Regions from separate parts of the Homo sapiens genome. Here region 1 is reported to be linked to region 2. The links are microRNA targets in miRTarBase. Many come from high-throughput screens and were not tested one by one. Region 2 holds a microRNA gene; the other region holds the end of a gene's coding sequence. Distances are between the middles of the regions.

Region 1 (4,377 bases), 150 Mb from region 2:
AGCACTGGGAGCATGTTGGAGATGCCATCGAGTTACACCCTTGTCTGTCAGTGTCTGAGTATGGTGGGTGTGGGTGTATGGGTGTGAGTGGGTGTGAGTCTATGTATGTGTGAGTGTGAGTGTGTGTTTGAGTGAGTGTAAGAACATGAACCCCTCATGGGGGCCTCCTCCTTGGGGTGCCTATGCTCTCCCTCCTGACTCCTCTTCCTCACTGCACTTGCTTTTGCTCCACTCACTGTGGATTTCTCACCAGCCTCAAAACTGTGGGCGTCATTGTGTTTCTAGACCTTTCTCCTTAGATTTCCCTCCTCCTAGGATCACTTTTCCTTTCCTCTCCCTTGGTTTGTTTCTGGAAATCCATCAAAACCACCTCGAATGGCAGCCCCGAGACTCTCCTGTCCCGGCCCTAGGGCATCACCTCCTCTTCCGCCACAGCAGGAGGGTGGGCTGTGCTGTCACCTTGCTTCCCTCAGCAGCTGTGTGAGCTCCCTGAGGACAGGGAGCACCCCTTCTCCCTTCCTACCCCCAGGACCTGTCACAGCGGCTGCCCCACAGCAGGGGAGACAAATCCTCTGCCTTCCCGGATGACCTGGGGTAGCAGGAGCTAAGGAGCCATCTCCTCAGATTTGGAGCGTGGACAAGAGTTGTCACTTTTGTGTTTCCCTTTCAGCACCACCCACCATGGCCCCAGGCTTAGCTCAACCCAAAGCCATAGCCACCACCCTCAGTCCCTGGAGCTTCCTCATCATCCTCTGCTTCATCCTCCCTGGCATCTGAGAAGAGTCATTTAGAGTGACAGGTACTGTGGGCAAAACTGTGAGGGGAACGAGAGACAGATGGGTGAGGTGGGAGGAAGGGAAAGGAGAATTTCCAGAGTCCCACCTCTCCCCATGGCCGGGACCTTCTCGTTCTGACATGAGACAGGTGAATGAGACCTGGTGTCGCCTGTTTGCAATGACCTGGGCAGCTCAACCTTGAGTTCTGATGGATTCTCACCATCAGGGCCAGAGGGAAAGGGAGGGACCCATATCAAGGCTCAGGGCCGGTTGAGTTCAAGAGGGTTTAGACAGTTCAGGCCTATTTCACAGCAGGTTTCTATCTGGGAAGGGTAGTGGTGTGTGGCCTGCAGGCAGCAGGAACTCAGGCATGGGCAGTCTGCACAGTAGGAGAGGAGTAGCATGGCCACTTCACCAAGGATGTCAAGGGAAGGGGTGTCCCTGGAGGAGGCTAAGAAGAGAGAAACCTGGGGGAATCCCAGGACGAGGGGGCTGTGAGGGCCTTGGCCCACCCAGTTCCTAAGGCTGCATTCCCAGAGAGAGCACCTTGAGTCCCAGCAGTTAAGGTGGAAGGTGAAGAGTAGAGCGTGTCCAGGATGAGGTTTAGGAAATGGCCGAGCCCCTTGGACCCATGGGATTCCTGGCTAGGCCCTGGGACGATGCCACTGCCATTCTGCCTCGTGCACACTCCAGATCCTGAGCCAGCTGATGGCCCTGCCTGGAGCAGAGTGGACTCAGCTAGGGCAGCTGAGCTGCTGCTAGAGGTCCGTGGTCACCACTGAGCTTGGCCAGGAATGAATGGGGCAGGGCAGGGACAGTCCCATTCAGAGCTATGGGTGCAGCTCCCAGGGTGAGGAGAGGCTGAGAGCGAAGGAGAAAGAAGGTTTGCCTACAAACCCACCCAAGGCCAGGGAACATGGATCCAGAGACCTCTCTTTGGACAGGGCTCCCCCAGGTCCTCTAGACCCTTCTATGAAAGGGAGGAGCAGGCCCTGAGTGAGGGTGCAGACCCCTCATTACCAGCCTCAGGTCTGAGCCCCTATGGGCTGTAACAGGACCTGGGCTGCCTCTGTGGTGTGGTGAAGGAGGGTGGAGGTTGGGAAAGGCTGCACAGCCAGGGGTAGGGTTGGAGGGAAAAACATGTTCCTTATCTGGGGGAGAAGCTCTGAAATGGGGAGGGCCTGGGAAGGATCACCCAGGAGAACAGACCCAGGTTTTTCTCAGCCACTTAAACCAATGCTTCATCTTTCCTCAAGGTGGAAGGTGATATCAAGAAGCCTCTGTTAGCCTGGTCTGGTTCCTGCTCTCCCTTCAGGGAGGCCGCCTGTCTACTCACCACTGTGCCTTTCTGGAAAGCAGGAGTTCAAGCCTTAGCAAGCCCAGAGGCCCCCAGCAGATGATGAGGACATTGTCGGCTCAACATCTCAGGCCACTCATTACCTTCGCTCATGATCCCAGCAGCCATTTTTCTTTTTTTTTTTTTGTTTTTTTTTTTTTTTGAGACGGAGTCTCGCTCTGTCGCCCAGGCCGGACTGCGGACTGCAGTGGCGCAATCTCGGCTCACTGCAAGCTCCGCTTCCCGGGTTCACGCCATTCTCCTGCCTCAGCCTCCCGAGTAGCTGGGACTACAGGCACCCGCCACCGCGCCCGGCTAATTTTTTGTATTTTTAGTAGAGACAGGGTTTCACCTTGTTAGCCAGGATGGTCTCGATCTCCTGACCTCATGATCCACCTGCCTCGGCCTCCCAGAGTGCTGGGATTACAGGCGTGAGCCACCGCGCCCGGCCAGCCATTTTTCTTAACACCTTCTGCCACTTTCTCTCGGTGCTAATGGATGGAATTCCTGCACAAGTTTTAACTGAACAAGAAATCCCAGCAAAAGGCATTTTCTTTCTACTTCTTTGATTGTGGAAAAGCAGACATTTCTCTGAAGCATGACCTTATTCTTCGAAACGGTATTGCTAGTAAAATAGCATGCAGGACTTCAGACCTCAGGGATCCTTTCCATGCACTGACCAAGAATTGTATTAATCCTTTTTATCATTATAGTTTTTTTACATTTTCTCATTCTGTCAACCATATTGGAGTGAAGTGGCATAGTCATCACTCACTGTAATCTCCAACTCCTGGGCTCAAGTGATCCTCTAGACTCAGCCTCTAGAGTAGCTGGGACTACAGGCGCATGCCACCATGCCTGGCAAATTGTTTTATATTTAGGTAGAGATTGGGTCTTCCTATGTTGCGCAGGTAATAAAACTGTGAAAATCCTGGAATATAAGCTAAGAAATACCAATGTGGACATAGGGCCTGGCAAAGATTTCATGAAGAAGACACTAAAAACAATTGTAACAAAAACAAAAATTGACAAATGGGACCTCATTAAACTAAAGAGCTTCTGCACAGAAAAAGAAACTAGCAACACGGTAAACAGACAGCGTGTAGAATGGGGAAACTATTTGCAAACTCTGCATCTGACAAAGGTCCAATATCCAGAATCTACAAAGTACTTAAACAATTAGACAAGCAAGAAAAAAAAACCCAATTAAAAAATGTGCAAAGACATGAACAGACACTTTTCAAAAGAAGACATACAAGTGGCCAACAAACGTGAAAAAATGCTCAATATCACTAATCATCAGATAAGTGCAAATCAAAACTGCAATGAGTTACCATCTCTTACCAGTCACAAAGTTGGAGATGGTGGTGAGGCTGCAGAGGAAAAGAAACAGACACTGTTGGTGGGAAAGCAAACTTGTTCAGCCGCTATGGAAAGCAGTTTGGAGATTTCTCCAAGAACTTAAAATAGAACTACCATTCAAGCCTGCAATCCCACTACTCGGGATATATCCACAGGAAAAGAATTCATTTTATCCAAAAGACACCTGCACCAATATGTTCATTACAGTGCTATTCTTACTAGCAAGGACACAGAATCAACCTAAGTGCCCAGCAACACTGAATTGAATGAAAAAAATGTGGTACATAAACACCATGGAAATCTATGCAGCCACCAAACACAGCAAAATCATGTCCTTTTCAGCAACATGGATGGAACTAGAGGCTATTATCCTAAGCAACCTAATGCAAGAACAGAAAACTACATACTGCATGTTCCCATTGGAAAGTGGCAGCTACACATTGAATTCACATGAACCAGAGGCACTGGAGATTACTAGACAGGTGAGACAGGAGGGGCACCTGGGCTGAAAAACCACCTGTTGGGTACCATGCTTACTGTTTGAGTGATGAGATCATTGGGACACCAAGCCTCAGCCTTCCAAAATCTACCCATGTAACAAACCTGTATGTGTACCCTTTAATCTATAATAAAGGTTAAAATTAAAGATTCGTAAGTAAAATAAAATGACATAGAGCCCTCCAAAAAATGGGGTTAACTGAGTGGAACGAGAGAACTTTGCACTATGAACGCTAACCCAGATCAAAAACTAAACTCTAGTCATTTAAAATAATCGTAAGTTGTATATGATGATAATTGTATAAAAGTTATACGTGAAAGTGCCAAACCCTAAAATTAAACACTGCATAATGAAATTATACAAGATTTCCATTTCCATCTTGTTCTTTATACCCTTACTTTTTT
Region 2 (4,377 bases):
CATCCGGCCGGCTCCTCCGAAGCCTCCACCGCTGGCGCTCCAGGGAGATGGCAACAGGGCCGGGTGGGTATCCTATAGGGACGGGAGCAAGACAGCGAGGAAGGAAGGGCAGAGGGTCCCTGTCGGGCGTCAGGCCCGAGCTATTGTCTCCCCCGGGCGTTCCCAGACTCGGTCGGGGGTTCTGCGAGGCTCCCAGGGAAGGCCGGCCGCGGGAGGCCGCTGGGTAGGGGCACAGAGGCCGGCTTGCTTTGCTGGGCAGTTTTCACCCCCTCCAAGACAGTAATGTATCCAGATTCCGAAGTTTTGGGAGCTTGTGCCTGCGCCCAGTGTTATGAGGTGGGGCGAGAGCAGCCTTGAGGAAGGGTCAGGAGTCTCTTTCCTGTGTGCTTTTTTTTCTTCCTAGAGTACGGTTTCTCCAAGGCTGCTAAGCCTCAGAGTCCGGGTTCAAGTTGAGTGGATCTGCCGGGAGAGGAGAAGAAGGGGAGCAGGGAGGGCAGCTGGCAGGCTGGGAGAGGAGCAGGCAGGCGGGGAAGGGAAGGGGCCAGTGCACCGAGGGGTGTGTGTGTGTGTGTGTGTGTGTGTGTGTGTGTGTGTGTGTGATTGACAGCCGGTCCAAGGGAATACAAAAATAAGAGGGGAAGGCCGCCTGTATTGGTTACTTGTTGAAATTCCCATAAAATTGAACAAGACTCTGTTCTCAGTGGGTTAAGTCAGGCTAAAATCCTCTCCGGTGTGGTCCTGCCGAGACTGTCTTTGTTTGGTTAACCTCTGAGACCCACATTTAAAAGGCCTATTTGGGAAATTTCACCGTCCAGGGAACCAACATCTTTTGCCCATTTCTGGGCTTTCCTTCTCCCCGGGTGCTCCCGCTGCACACCGGCTCAGGAACACATAAAGCATGCATCACCCTCCAAGCCACTGTCTCATTGCTGTGGGAGGCCAGTGTGAGAGAGTAGCTTGGGGCCTTGCCTTTGACTGGCAGGCCCATGGGATTTTAATCTGCAGCCCTAGGTGCTCCGAGCGAGGGGTTAATGTAAGGGTTTATCTCTGTTCTTCACATTAACCTGGTCAAATATTCAAATTCCCTCTTCCATCCCTACCGTCCCCTCCCACCTTTCACCGCCTTCAGCAAGTCAATAATTTTTCATAATCTGCAACCAGAACAATGTAAACCAGCCACACTACAAGTGGCATCCACAGGGCAGGCGCATTTCTCAGGGGAGTCCTAGCAGGGTCCTTCAGGTCCTGCCACCCAGGACCTGTATCATCAATGTGGGTCCATTGTTGGGCGGGGGGGGAGGCAGGGAAGGGGAGGAGTCTCCAACAGTTTGGTGACCCCCTCCACTGGCAAATGTCCCTTTAGTGAAAGATCCTGGGATCCAGCTCTGTCCCTCCCACCCCCTCCTCTTAACACTTGCCCAGCTGCAAACATCTCGCTGCAGACACCCCAACATACAGAACATATCTGATTCTGACATTTACTTCGGGACAGAAGTACAGCAAAATGAACGCAAGGAAAAAAAGGGACAAAAGGAACTAGACACAGCTTCCTGACCAAGTTCCCCAAAGGCCAGATGCCTTCTCTCCAAGCTAAGTGAGACTCTGAACGGGAGACCTGCAGTCTCCTGCACAGGGATCCCCAAAGAGCCCAGGAAGGCAGGGGACTTTACACCACGCTCACAGCAGCCAGACAATTCTGAAGCTTCGGCTGCTGGCCAGGGATACTGGGAGGACAGTAAGACCCTGATCCCTGCTCCCACGAATAAGATGCCGGCTTTCCCCAGCATCTGCTTTTCCCAGTGCCCTCAGACCTCCTAGCTTCGGGGTCCCTGTTTGTGGGAGTGGCAGTGGCCGCCAGCCCTGGAGGCCTAGAAGCGGTGCGCCCAGCTGGCTGGGCTGGAGCGTGCTGCGTTACCTGAGAGGTCCTCGCGAGCGTTCTGGTGCAAGTAGCTCTGCTCCAGCGAGTAGGAGGACATGCTGGAGTGCAGGCCTGCCGAGGCGGCGGGGTTGCTGCTGGGCGTCAGGGCAGGCGGCTGCTTGAGGTAAGGCGAGGCGCCAGGCGAGCTCCAGTGCGCCGCAGGGCTCGTGTAGGGCGAGTGGCATTCGATGGCGCTCGCCATGGCCGGGGACGAGGGTACCGGGCTGCTGCTGCTGTCCGGCCCGTAGTCGCCGCCGCCGCCGCCCCCGGCCGCACCGACGCCCCCGGGTCCCGCGGGCACCGGGCAGCTGGCCATGTAGGTGGAACCCGGGTTGGGCGACATGTGCGGGACGTGGTGGTGGTGGTGGTGGTGAGGGTGCGCGTGGCTGGGGGCGCCCGCGCCGGCGTCGTAGCCCGCGGGCATCATGTCGAGGCCGCCGTAGCCGCCCTGGCTGTGGCAGCCGAGCGGCGCCGACGGGGGCGCCTGGAAGTCGAAGCCCTGGGGCAGCAGCGACGCCCCGAAGCCCAAGCCGCTCACCACGCGGTGGTACATGGGCTTGAGCGCCTGGCACTTCCGCCTGAAGCCGCGCGGCCGGCGGCGGAACGAGCCCTCCTCGAACATGAACTCGCTGGCCGGGTCGATGGTCCAGTAGTGGCCCTTGCCGGGCCGCCCGAGGCCCTTAGGCAGCTTGATGAAGCACTCGTTGAGCGAGAGATTGTGGCGCACCGAGTTCTTCCAGCCCTGGTAGGCGCCGCGGAAGAAGGGGAAGCGCGCCTGCAGGAACTGGTAGATCTCGCTGAGCGTCAGGCGCTTGCTGGGCGAGCTCTGGATGGCCATGACGATGAGCGCGATGTACGAGTAGGGCGGCTTCTCGGGCCGCCGCAGCCCCGAGCTCGCCTTCTTGGCGCCCCCGCTCCCGGCGCCCGCGCCGCCGCCGCCCGCGCTCTTGCAGGCAGCCGAGGGGGCGCTGGCCGAATTGGAGGAGGACGAGGACGAGGCGCAGGAGGCGGAGGACGACGACGAGGAGGAGGAGGTGGTCTCCGGGGCGGCGGCGGCGGCGGCGGCGGCGGCGGGCGGCGGGCTCATCAGGGCGGCCTGGAGCGCGCCGGGGACCGGGCTGCACGCGCGGCGGAGCGGGGCCGGCGGCGGCCCGCCCTCGGTGGTCATCTGGGACCCGGGAGCGAGGCCGGGCCGCGAGGGCGGGCCCCGGGCGGGAAGCGGAGGCGCCGGAGCGGGGTCGGCCCAGAAGCCCTGCGAGCGCCCTAGCCCGCCGCCCGGGCTGCAGCCGTGGCCACTCCGGGCCAGCGCTTCGGCGTCGCCTCCCTCAGCTCCTCTGGGGCTTCTGGCGGCGGCGGCGGCGGCGGGCGGGAGGCAACGCCCGGCGCATCCCTCCCCGAGCCGCGGGCCCTGCCTTGCGCAACGGCCTCCCAGGCCGCGGGGCCGAGCGGCCGGCGCCGGGCGACTGCGCCCGCGAGTGGGACCGCGGCCTGGACCCCGGGGACGAGCCCGACGTCTCCCTTCAGGAGCGCTCCTCGCTCTGTCTCTCGGACTTCCTCCCTCCCTCGCCCTCCCCGGCCGCCCTCCTCGCTCCCTCCCTCCCTCCCTCCCCCCCCACCCCGCCCTGCCCCCTCCTCGCTCCGCGCCGCCGCGCTCACTCCTCCCCCTCCCGACCTGGCGGCCGCCTCCCTCTCTTATCTCGCTCCCCGCTCTCCAGGGTCTCCTCGCTCTTCATTCCTCTCGCGGCCTCCTCCCCTTTCCCTCACTCACCCTCTTTCCAATTGAGGGATCACAGACTCACTCCGGTTCTGCCAGGGGGACGACCCCCACCCCTCGCAAAACTCGACCACCTCTGACTTCATGAAATATTCTTTCTGTTTGCCCCCCGCAGCAAGCCCCGCGTCCCATCCCAGGACCCAGCCCCGCCCCTCCGCGCCCCCTTCCTCCTCCTGGCCCGCCGGGCCGAGTGGTGCTGCTGCGGGTGCGGCTGCTCGGAGCCTCCCTGGCCGCCCTCCCCAGGGCCGATACTGACTCCATCTGTCAACTTCGTTTAGACTTTGCCGCCCTCAGCCACACGCCGGGGTGCCAGACGCCCAAAGGTAACGTGCCAATCCTCTCTCTTTCTGGCAGGGCCTGCAGGCTCCCCGACAATTGTTAGGGCGACTGGGGGCCGCCGCAGGGTTGCGGGCCGCTGGCGATCGTGGACGTTTTCGGAACTTTGAGCAGAGGGATTTACACTGAGAAACCTAGGCCAAGTTTCAAAGACTCTGGAAACCTGGATCTCATGGGACTTAGGGTTGCATTTGCTTCCACTTCTTCCCCCCACCCCCGCACCCCAGTTAGTGTTCTGTAAGAAAAAAGTGCAAAAGAAAAAGGAAGGAAGGAAGAAAAGAAAGAAAGAGAAAGAAAAAGAAAGACCCTGAGATAAGCGAGATGGCTATATTTATAGTCAGTCCTGAAG

What was found. Region 2 holds the annotated microRNA hsa-miR-6720-3p (CGCGCCUGCAGGAACUGGUAGA, at 2,689-2,710, shown strand). A microRNA usually pairs through its seed, bases 2 to 8, with sites in the 3' UTR of a target mRNA and lowers its output. Matches are read on the target gene's strand: a 7mer-m8 pairs with bases 2 to 8, a 7mer-A1 pairs with bases 2 to 7 and ends in A, and an 8mer does both.
Region 1: the mRNA of ULBP3 is a reported target of hsa-miR-6720-3p. Seed matches in the 3' UTR shown: 8mer at 2,952-2,959.

Annotation. Positions count from the first base shown.
Region 1 is chr6:150,061,007-150,065,383 of GRCh38, reverse strand. ULBP3 (UL16 binding protein 3) reads left to right here. Exons shown (of 5, transcript NM_024518.3): 4 at 671-799; 5 at 2,033-4,331. The coding sequence ends at 777. Among named protein-coding and RNA genes, the nearest start is that of ULBP3, 5.9 kb to the left of the region's middle.
Region 2 is chr6:1,388,657-1,393,033 of GRCh38, reverse strand. MIR6720 (microRNA 6720) reads left to right here and starts at 2,623; the gene lies at 2,623-2,720. FOXF2 (forkhead box F2) reads right to left here and starts at 3,458. Exons shown (of 2, transcript NM_001452.2): 1 at 1,916-3,458. The coding sequence starts at 3,086. FOXF2-DT (FOXF2 divergent transcript) reads left to right here and starts at 3,573. Exons shown (of 3, transcript NR_187218.1): 1 at 3,573-4,015. RefSeq lists an enhancer at 1,411-2,276.